Regions from separate parts of the Homo sapiens genome. Here region 1 is linked to region 2. Evidence: fine-mapped expression QTL. A gene starts in region 2. The other region holds a variant in brackets. All regions are shown on one strand. Distances are from middle to middle. Region 1 overlaps PKP4 (plakophilin 4). Region 2 holds the start of PKP4-AS1 (PKP4 antisense RNA 1).

The links.
Region 1: its variant is fine-mapped to the expression of PKP4-AS1 in minor salivary gland (GTEx, PIP above 0.99).

Annotation. Positions count from the first base shown.
Region 1 is chr2:158,505,758-158,511,141 of GRCh38, forward strand. The region is part of intron 1 of PKP4 (plakophilin 4); the gene reads left to right. Among named protein-coding and RNA genes, the nearest start is that of PKP4, 51 kb to the left of the region's middle. The variant C/T (reference allele first, on the strand shown) is at 2,428.
Region 2 is chr2:158,732,625-158,738,008 of GRCh38, forward strand. PKP4-AS1 (PKP4 antisense RNA 1) reads right to left here and starts at 2,378. Exons shown (of 4, transcript NR_135242.1): 1 at 2,104-2,378.

The DNA of each region.
Region 1 (5,384 bases), 230 kb before region 2:
ACAAAGCTGGGAGAGGGCATGCCAGGGCCTGGAACTGCAAGTGTAGAGGTAGTTGCAGGGAGGGATAGAGTGCTGCTGTCCCTGGAAGTACCGGTGTGGAGGAGGTGGGGTCTGAAATGTGCCCACCTTTCCACCAGCAGATCTGGTGAAGAAGACCATAAGTACACAGGAGGCGCATCCCTCAACTGTGAGCTTCAACAGCCCTGTTTTGAAACCTTAAGTAAAAGATTTGTAAAATAATAAGCCTGAACTTTTTCCCTCCAAGCTATACTGTGAAATGTGAATTTTAAAAAGAATGGTTGTGTAAATATGAAGAAAGTACTTTCAAATTAGATGATCAGACTGCGTTTCCTTCAGAATTGTGTTGCTTTGCTTGAACATGGCAATTGAAAGATCCCAGAAGCAAGACTGTGGACAAGTTATGCCCTGGCTTTGAGCCTCCAGTCACCTTGCTCTGCAGTGCAGTCCTTGATGTTAAGTGGCCTTCCTCCAAGCTTTAGGAAGCCTCAGTGCAGGTTGTGGTTGAGGAGATGAAGAAGGCCTAAGAGGAGCAGCTCCTGTTTTTATAATTTTTTGTATCAGTGCTCCCTCCCAAGGGTATTTAAGTAAAGGTATTAACAAAATTAAGAATTTGGCAGACAGCTCAGTTAGACGATCACCAAGGTCCTTCTCATTTCTAAAGTTATTTGAAGCTGCTGTTTTCATTAGTCCTTAAGTATATGTTGCTACCATATAATTTGGCCACAAAAATGTTTAGATATGTGTCAAAGTCCTCAGGGCTTCCTGACAGAAGTGCTTCTTGACTGATTGTGTATTTGGTACAAGGGCTTCTTTGGTGATAGTTTCTACTCTCTTTAAATACTGTTCTGTTATTTTTGAAATCTGATCAAGAATTGACACAATAAATCTCTTTGATATTTATACTTATGCCTACTTTTAACCTTTTAGGAAAACTTTATGAATTGGAATATTCTAAAATCCTGAAATAATTTGGAATATTCTAAAATTCTGAAGAGAATATGAACGGATTGTTGGAATGGAACTTTTACCCGATTCCCTCAGACTAGAGTGTTCATACGACATTTTGCCAAGAAGTTCCTATAGAGGCAATATCACTTTTAGGATGGATGGGTCTAAAAGGATCATATTTAGTTTCTGGTTATTCATGGTTGCACTCACTTTAGAGGATGTGTTCCTATTAGGTTGCTGCTACTATTTGTCTCTCCTAAATAACAGTATGGAATTATAGAAAGAAAGGTTGGGAGAATAGTCGTGTGATTCTCCTGGTCAGCATAAAGCCTGTTCCATCCAGCCACTGACTATTTTGTTCTTTCTTTTGCTTTGAAGGCCAAGATGACATTTCCATTACTTCGATGTTTTTATGTTCTATACCTCTCTCTTGCTCCATATATTTTGCAGTGGTGCAGATATATTGATCCATAAATGACTGGTATTACATACTGAATCAAGGTACATGCATTCAACTCTAGAGAGAATTGTTTCTGGGTGTTTTTCACTATGTGACTCACCACTGTGAAGGTATGAAGATGAGTTTATGCCGCTAATGGGGTAGCTTTGTTGTGATGTAATTTCAGTAGCTGCCCATGGCAGCTGTTAGTCGAAGGTAAATTCAAAGCCAGATGGTTTAGATATCACAGTGGTGAAGATCAACAGAGTACCGTGAAACCAGGACTCGGTCATGGCAACCTGAGACTGTTCTAGCTAACTCTTTCTAATGTGTTTCATCTGGCACTTTGCCAGTTCAGTCCCTTGCTTACCTTTCCCCATTTGAAAAACTCTGCTTTTGGAGGGAGAATGGATTACAGGTCTTGACAGAGGCTTGGACTCTTGACTTCTTGGTTTGTTTTTTTAAATTTAAAAAAGAATTTCAGTTCTTTTGTGACCATCACATTACTGAAGTTAACATTGATGTCTTGCTCAAACTTATTTTTTTTCTCTCACACATTTCAAAAGAACCAAGTTAATACATTGAATTGAGCAGTCTGATAAGAAGGTAGTGTGGGGGGGTCTCCGGGTCCACAGAATTTCCTTGAGTGTGGATTGCTGTGTAGGAAAAGCTCTCTAAATTTTTTCTGCTGGCTGAATGTAGAGTAATGTGACCCTGTTGCTCTCCGTGGTGAGCTTTCCATAATTGAGATATTCCTGGATTCATTGCCAGGAGTGGACTTCCTTTACCTCTGCTCTGCCACAGGGTGGCTGCTGCCTTTCTCCTTTAATAAGGTATGTTCAGTTTCCCCCACTCAAAGACCATTTCATCCCTTAGACATTCTACCCAGGACATTGAAAATAGAAACAAGGCCAGGCACAGTGGCTCACGCCTGTAATCTCAGCACTTTGGGAGGCCAAGATGGGCGGATCACCTGAGGTCAGGAGTTCAAGACCAGCCTGGCCAACATGGTGAAACCC[C/T]GTCTCTATTAAAAAAAAAAAATACAAAAAATTAGCTGGGCATGGTGGCAGGCACCTGTAATCCCAGTTACTTGGGAGGCTGAGGCAGGAGAATTGCTTGAACCTGGAGGGGCAGAGGATGCAGTGAGCCAAGATCACGCCATTGCACTCCAGCCTGGGCAACAAGAGCAAAACTCCGTCTCAAAAAAAAAAAAAAAAAAAAAAGAAGAAGAAGATGCCAGTGAAGGAAAGTTAGAAACCACTGCGTGTCCTAAGCAGTTCCTAACTCCCATGGACAATTCTAGCATGAGTTTTGTAATAGTTTATAATTGACATATAGGTAGAAAATTGATACCAAGAAACCCAGCTGTTCCTAGAGTACTAGTAGTAACTCAGAAAGAGTAGAGAATTGTACTGTAAAATGAGCAGATTGCCTTTTCACTTTCTTTTTCTACTCCATCAAAGTGCCAGCTTGCTCCATCTTTGCTAAACGTTAGATTAAATGTCTTATTTATCATGATACCTCTGATGTTCAAAATTACATATGTTGCTGTAATTCTTATGAATTGTGAGCATACATTCTTCTGCGTAAACAGATGGTACTGTTGACACAGGCTTTATAATCCTAGTAGGCTGGACATCAAAATTTTATATTTCTACCATTACCTTAATTGTAGAGAGGTTCTGGGGTGACTGTGGAAAGTCATCTAACATGTGTTCTCTTTCTTTGCACTGCTGGGTTTCTAAATATTTATTAATCATTATTTATACTCTGTAATGCCATACTTTATTGGTGAATGTACCATCTTTGGGAGGTCATTAGATATTCTTTAGTATCTAAGAGAAATATCTACCTATCAGTGAATTTCAAATTATAGTTTATGGTCTTCAGATTAATGAAAAGCAAGTTCCCACCCCCACCAAAAATTAAAATGACACAAAAATGCATCTTGGGAACATCACAATATTTTAAACTGAGAATACTAATTTTTTGAGATTTGATTATATCACATATGACTTAGATTCTGATAGATTATGAATTTGTAATCAGTTCAATTTTGTATACTGAAATTATCTTTGCACTCTGAATAAATGAAGTATCAAGCAAAATTTTAAGAGTAACAATATTTTAAGAGATATAAACACAGTTAAAATCTTTGAGGTATTTTACCACTCACTTTTAGAATTATCAAATGCTGCTTTGATCTTTTCATCAAATCAGAACAGATATCTATATTTTTATTGGCAACAATAAAAACAGTCTGTGAGGAAATGAAACAATCCAGTCTTTCATTTTCTTGCTCATTTAATCTGAACAGGTGATGTTTCAGTATATTGAGACATAAGACAATCAAGACTTTTTGAGACATAAGACAATCAAGACTTTGTTAACAGCTTTCTAGATTATTGGTGGAATTATAGCTCTGATTTATAGGGTCACATTAAAAGTACTCCTTTGTGTACACTAGGTCTGGAGGTGATGATATAGAAATACTAGTGTGGGCCGGGCGCGGTGGCTCACGCCTGTAATCCCAGCACTTTGGGAGGCTGAGGCGAGTGGATCACCTGAGGTCGGGAGTTTGAGACCAGCCTGACCAACATGGAGAAACCCTGTCTCTACTAAAAATACAAAATTAGCCAGGCGTGGTGGCACATGCCTGTAATCCCAGCTACTCGGGAGGCTGAGGGAGGAGAATCGCTTGAACCCAGGACGTGGAGGTTGCGGTGAGCCGAGATCACACCACTGCACTCCAGCCTGGGCAACAAGAGCAAAACTCCATCTCAAAAAAAAAAAAAAAGAAATACCAGTGTGACCACATTGTAACATAGGTTGTGTTATTTCCTGCTAATGGAATGTAGCTTCCTTGACTTGTGGTTATTTCCCAAAATTCTTCCTTTAAGAAATTCAAAACCCTCACCTAAAAGGAAAGAAGTTACCCAAGTAGGAAGATTGAAAATGAAATCTGATTCTTTCTGACATTTTTACTGCCAACTAATAAACAAAAGACTTCATTAAGGAAGCAGACTGTTCAGTGGTTCTTTGTGTCTGAATATGACTGATCTAATATATTAAACATTTTTCTGTAAATGTAGCAGTATAGTGCCAGTTTCTATTTTCAACTCCTCAAATAGTAGAATCAGTTCTGTCAGCAGGCATTTTATTAAATGCCTCAGAACATGTGTTAGACATCATAGAAAATACAAACATAGAAGACAGGGATCTTGGTCTTATTAAATTTAAATCTAAAAAGATGTGGGAGCATTTTAAAGAGCAAATACAAGTGGGTGAAAATGAGCATTGCGTGTTGCTAAGACTTGAACTAGATTGGTTGGACTAGAGGAGTGAGTCATCGAAAAAAGGCAATTTCAGAACACATTAATGAATGTCTTCTTAAGGATGAGGCACTTGCAAAGTGCCTGTGTGTCAAAGGAAGAAATGATTTGGTGATTCAAGTGGTAGTGGAGTTGTTTGACACTTGCTTGTGGGCTTTGAAATGATAAGAAGAGCAGGGCTGGAGTTCCAGGAGGGCTGGGCCAGATTGGGCTGGTGGGGTGGGGTGAGTCCACTTCCCCTGCCCAGGCAGCTGATGGAAGGCATGAGAATAGACCTATTCTAAGGCAGCTATGTTGAAAGGGAACTGCTTTCAGCAAGAATGCCCACTGTGCCCCCCATTTGGGGACAAGCAGATGCAGAGGGACCCCTTCCAAATTTACACCTAGATTTTGCCCGAGATTTCTTTAGTGATTGATCTCTACCACTGCATCTGCTCTACTTTTCTGTCACCATTCCTCATTCTTCAAAGTGCAGCTCAATTCCTGTTGTGCCAGACCACAGAGTGGTAGGGGAAGGCCTCTGTGAGCCTGAGTATGGTGAAGGAGGAACCCTGGAGAGAGCTGGGCAGGAGGGAGCATGCAGAGCTCTGCCGAAACTCACGTCAGGGGCTGAGCGCGGTGGCTCACACCTGAAATCTCAGCAC
Region 2 (5,384 bases):
CAGTTGTAAAGGCACATATCACCAACACTCACACACCAAGGAACTTTCATCCTTGTGTTCCAGTTACAAAGGTGAAGCCAAAAGGTTAAAAACAGACACAGCAAAACACACTGGGGTTATTAGTGTTGTCTCTCATAATTCCTAATGCTGATTTCAGCATTTTCTTAAAAAGGAAAAAAAAAAGTGGAAGCTAAAAGTACAGAGGTTTGCAACAGATTCTCCATATTTCTTTGATCCAAAACTGCACCTTCTCCACTTTTTAGCATCTCTGATATCAGAGTACAGCTTGCAATCGGTGGTATGCTACAACTAGCTTGGTCCTAGCTCCACTCCCCGCCATCACACTTCAGTGAATTATGTGCTGTGCTGGCACTACACATGTTGAGTTTCACTGCCATTTAAGAGCTTTCAAAAAGATTATGTGACAATTTGGCATTGAAATGAAAAATTACTGCATATACAGAAGAGCATGAAAACAGAGCAGCAAGACATAAATTTGATATTAGTGAAACCATTTGTTGGAGGAATAATCACACTTCCATATTTTCTTGCAAAGAAGCAACAACCAATAGGATCAATTGCTTTATAGCTTTGCTGCTCAAACTGTAGTGCTGGGGCCGGCAGCATTGGCCTCAGCTGGGAGCTTGTGAGAACTGCCGGATCTCAGGCTCTAGCCCAGACCTGTTGTATATCTACTGTTTAGCAAGATCCCCAGGTGATTTGTATGAACAGGGAAGTTTGAGAAGCATAGCTTTATAGGGCTTATGAAGGGAAGATATCCACAAGTAGATAAAGCTGAGTTAGGTTTGTTACCACGATATACACAAAAGGATCATCTATCACACACTAGGCAAAAAAGCTTGTAAAAACAGATGTCAGCGGCTGAAAAAATACGGGAGACCATAAGAGAGTGTATCGCCAGTTCACATGAAAGCCCAGAGGATGTTAATTGTGTGGTTTGGAAAAAATGTGTGGCATTGATGACTGCAAAGTGGTTCAGAAGAGTGAGAATGTGAAGTTTTGTGGAACACCTTAAGCAATTCATTTCACTTGTGTTTTCCTTTTTAGATACGTCGAGTGCTACACGTAACAAGAGATGTTTAAATAAATATGAAAGAGCTCTTTCAATATGGAAAACATTGTATCAGGAAAGAAAGCATTGTGTCATAGTTTAATTTGCAACTATTTTTTTCCTTAACTATATAGAAAATGAACATATCTTATAATAAAAGGCATCTCAGATTTAATGAAATATATATGGAAGTTGCCCATACTTTGCTATAATTGCCTTTTGCCTTTTCTCTTAGAGTTGAAATTTCAGTAACCATTGTCTTCACTCTGGTGATTACTAACATCAAGATATTTTACTTAAAAAACAAAATTTTGAGTTTGTTGCTTTTGCTTTTTTTTTTTCCTTTCCTTGAGACAGAGTCTCGCTTTATCACCCAGGCTGGAGTGCAGTGGAGTGATCTCGGCTCACTGTAACCTCCGCCTGCTGGATTCAAGCAATTCTTCTGCCTCAGCCTCCTGAGTAGCTGGAATTACAGGCACATGCCACCACGCCCAGCTAATTTTTGTATTTTTAATAGAGATGGGGTGGGGTGGGGCGGGGCGGGGCGGGGGGAGGGTCACCATGTTGGCCAGGCTGGTCTCGAACTCCTGACCTCAAGTGATCCGCCAGCCTTGGCCTCCCAAAGTGCTGGGATTACAGGCGTGAGCCACCACGCCCGGCCATTGCTTTTGCTTTTAAACTTTATGTTTTTAAGGGCTATGTACTCAATGCCATTAATCTACTAAGAAAAGAACAGTTTGTCTGCTCTAGCCGCCGTACTTTAGAATTTAGAAAATTAAATAAGAAAGGAAAAAATGTCACGCAAGAGGTGGAAATGATACAGCAAGACTGCCGTCCAGACAGACTTTAACAGTGATATATCCTCTTTTGCTATTTCAAACAATGGCAATCACATTTTAAAAAACCGAATAGCTGCTTTCACAATGAGCTCAACCTGAGCTCATTTAATCCTGAGAAACCTGTGTAACAGGTAGTACTATCTTCTTTTTCACAAATAAAGAGAGCGAGGTCAGTGAAATGAAATAACTCACCCAAGAAGAGAAGTGTTGTCAGTGGTGGGCCCAGAATTCAAAGGAGGCATCCCCCAGCCCCCTAAGCCAGCGTCTCTGCAGTGGCAGCTCCTCCATACACACTGGAGCCTGAAGCCTGGATTGGCCCTCTGGCGACAGATTATTTGAAAATCATTCCTCAGTTTTAGTGAACAATCCATACATTGTCTTCGTGGACTTGAAGGTCTTCAGTGGGCTGCCTCCTGAGGCTGCCTTTTGCTGGGTAATACCTTAGGATGTGAGAGCCGCTTGCCTTTAAATATGGAACCAGCTGCTACGTGCTCTTGACCACGGCAAAGCTGGCAGGACCTCAGATTTCCTTATGCGCAAAATGTCCCCATTTTTTGCAGAGTTTCTTGGAGCGTCCTTCTAAGGTTGAGCTCAGCTCACTTCACTAGGTTGTCATTTAAGAGCATATTGTGGGATGGACCTCATGCCTGACCCTGGGGTGCCATCTCACTGCCAACCTTTGACCCCGCTTTATGGCCTCACTGAGAACCTTCTCCCCCAAGATTCTCACTCCTTTAAATAACTCAGAATGCTAGTCTAAAAAGTTATCCCTCTTCCTTCTCATTAACTGCATTAGTGGTTTTCCATCTTTGCCAACATTGGAATCACCTGGGGAGCATTACAAAAATCTCCAGGCTCGGACCACACCTCCTGTCAATTAAATCAGAAGCTGTGGACGTGGGATCCAGGAACAGTATTTTTGAAACTGTGCAGGTGATTTCAATATGCAACCAAGTTTGTGAGACAGTACATCAGGTTAGTTGTCCACGAGCTTTACTTTTATAAACCTTTCCAATTAAGTTTTTCACTTTAAGTTAAAAGCCCTTCAGTATTAGACCAGGTGGGGTGGCTCATGCCTGTAGTCCCAGCACTTTGGGAGGCTGAGTGGGCAGACCACCTGAGGTCAGGAGTTCAAGACCAGTGACCAGCCTGACCAACATGGCAACCCCATCTCTACCAAAAATACAAAAATTAACCCTGCATGGTGGTGCCTGCCTCTAATCCCAGCTACTCTGGAGGCTGAGGCAGGAGAATCACTTGAACCCAGGAGGTAGAGGTTGCAGTGAGCCGAGATGGTGCCACTGCACCCCAGCCTGGGCAAAAGAGCGAGACTATGCCTGAAAAAAAAAAAAAAAAGAAAAGCTCTTCCGTATTCTTCCCTCACCTGCATAACCACTTTTCAAAAACACCTTTTGTTTTTATTACAAAAAGAACACACATTTATTGTGCAACCTTTAGTTTTGCAAATACAGCTAAGCAAAGAGAAGGAATTACAAATCACCAGTGATCTTACTATGAGGCAATAATTCCTGCTAATGTGTTCATATGGATTTCTCTAGCATCTTTTCCTTGTTTCTATCATGTGCATGTGTATTTTATTGTACATATGGTTTTGTAGCCTCCTTTTCTCATCTGAACGCCTTTTCGATTGAACTTCTCAACCTCCTGTCTTTTCCTCCTCTGACCTGACCTCTGTAACTTTAATAAGTCAGTTTTTCTTGGGCCTTTCAACTTGACCTTCTGTGAATTCTGAAGCCTCCTTTTAACCTAATGGCCAATTCAGTTCACAAGTGCTAAACCTGTTCCTTCTGGAGTCACTGTCTTTCCAAATGGCTCTACCATCTGGCTGCCCAACTGCTCAAGTCAAATGTGTCTGAGGTCATCCTAGATTCCTTGGACACATTACACTGCATTTCTAACCAACTATCAAAGCATGTCTATTGTGCCTCTTAAATATTTTTTGAATCCTTATTCATCTCTCCATCCACATTTGCAACTTCCATCCAGGGCCCCATTACATTTTGCCTCCATTGTCACAGCCTCCTAACTAGCCTCTTTATCCCCAGCCTTGCTTCCCTCTAGACCACTCCCCCACAACATCTGGGTGATATCACAAAGTTATTACCTTTGAGATAAAGTCTACACTCCTTCCTAAGGTTTTCAAAGCCGATATGAGCCAGCATCTGCTTAAATAATGCCCACTCTATCCTTCTCCCATGACTCCACCACACACCTGGTCCATGATGCTTCAGAAACATTGACTGCTTCCCTCTTTGTTCTACCTTAAACACGCTTCTCGTTTCTTCTGGTGAATGCCTGCTCATTTTGCAGGTCTCAGATGGATCCCCGCTTTCCTGGAGAAGTCTTTCCTGACTCCCCAGAGCTGGATCAGATGCCTCTCTTTGTGCTCCCCTAATACGCTGTATCTGCCCTATTGCAGCACACATCACATTGAATTGCACTGGCCTCTTTTCTTGGCTGTGTCTTCTCCAAACTGGAACACCAGGGCCACATCTGTTTTGCTCGACATAATGTCTCCAGCATCTAGCAACACTAACGAAAACATCTGTTGAATGAATGGTGAATGATTGAAGCCCTTCATACCACAACATGCAGTCTTGCGGCACAGACAGGGGTCTTTTCTGTATTGTGCTCTCAGTTGCAACACAGAACATCAACAGGTACTGGGCAGTGTCTTCTCTATAGAGCAAAGGGGCCCAGTGATAAGGGGATGACTTCCTCCTGCCCTATAGACCAGTCTCCCAAACTTTCTCGACTGCATAGCCTTTCCTAGTTCTTTTTTTCCCTCTTCCTGGCTTCCTCCAGCTTTGCAACCTTCAAGTCAAATTAGCCAAGTTGAATTTTATATGAGCTTAGTTTTATTTTTCACAGTGGAAGCTCCTCATCTCTTCATCAATAATAGACATCACTGTAACCCAAAGCTCTGTGGCTTTTCCAATAGAATCATGTTAATAAATATCTGGTGTTAGTTTGCTGTTGATAGCAACATTTCCAACTCTTTAGTGTTGGCCAAAAAAAAAAAAAAAAAAGAAAAAGAAAAAAAAGAAAAAGAAAGGAGTTGGCAAAAGCAGAGAAGAGCAGGCATGGTTTCTAGCCTTTCTCTCAAAATGTGAACCCTTAGTGCCCCTGAACTAGCTGGATGCCATTCTGGGGATAGAGCAGGTTTTACAGAAGCTTGTGTATTTATAATTTAGGGGTTTTCTTTAAGAAAAAGAGTATAAAACTATAGATATATGGCTTGCAGTTCTTGAAAGTTGCTTGTGCAAGTGCAGTGGGGGCCCTTGAAAACCATCCTTCATTCAATTAATTTGCTTTCCATCTCTATCATAATTTTTATAACTGGAGAAACTGAATCCTAGAGTAATGGAGCTGAGCATGAGTCAGCTTGAGAAGCTCTGGTTGCCCAGCCCTCCCTGCTGCAGGACCTGCAGTTCGTCGTGAAGCTACATGGA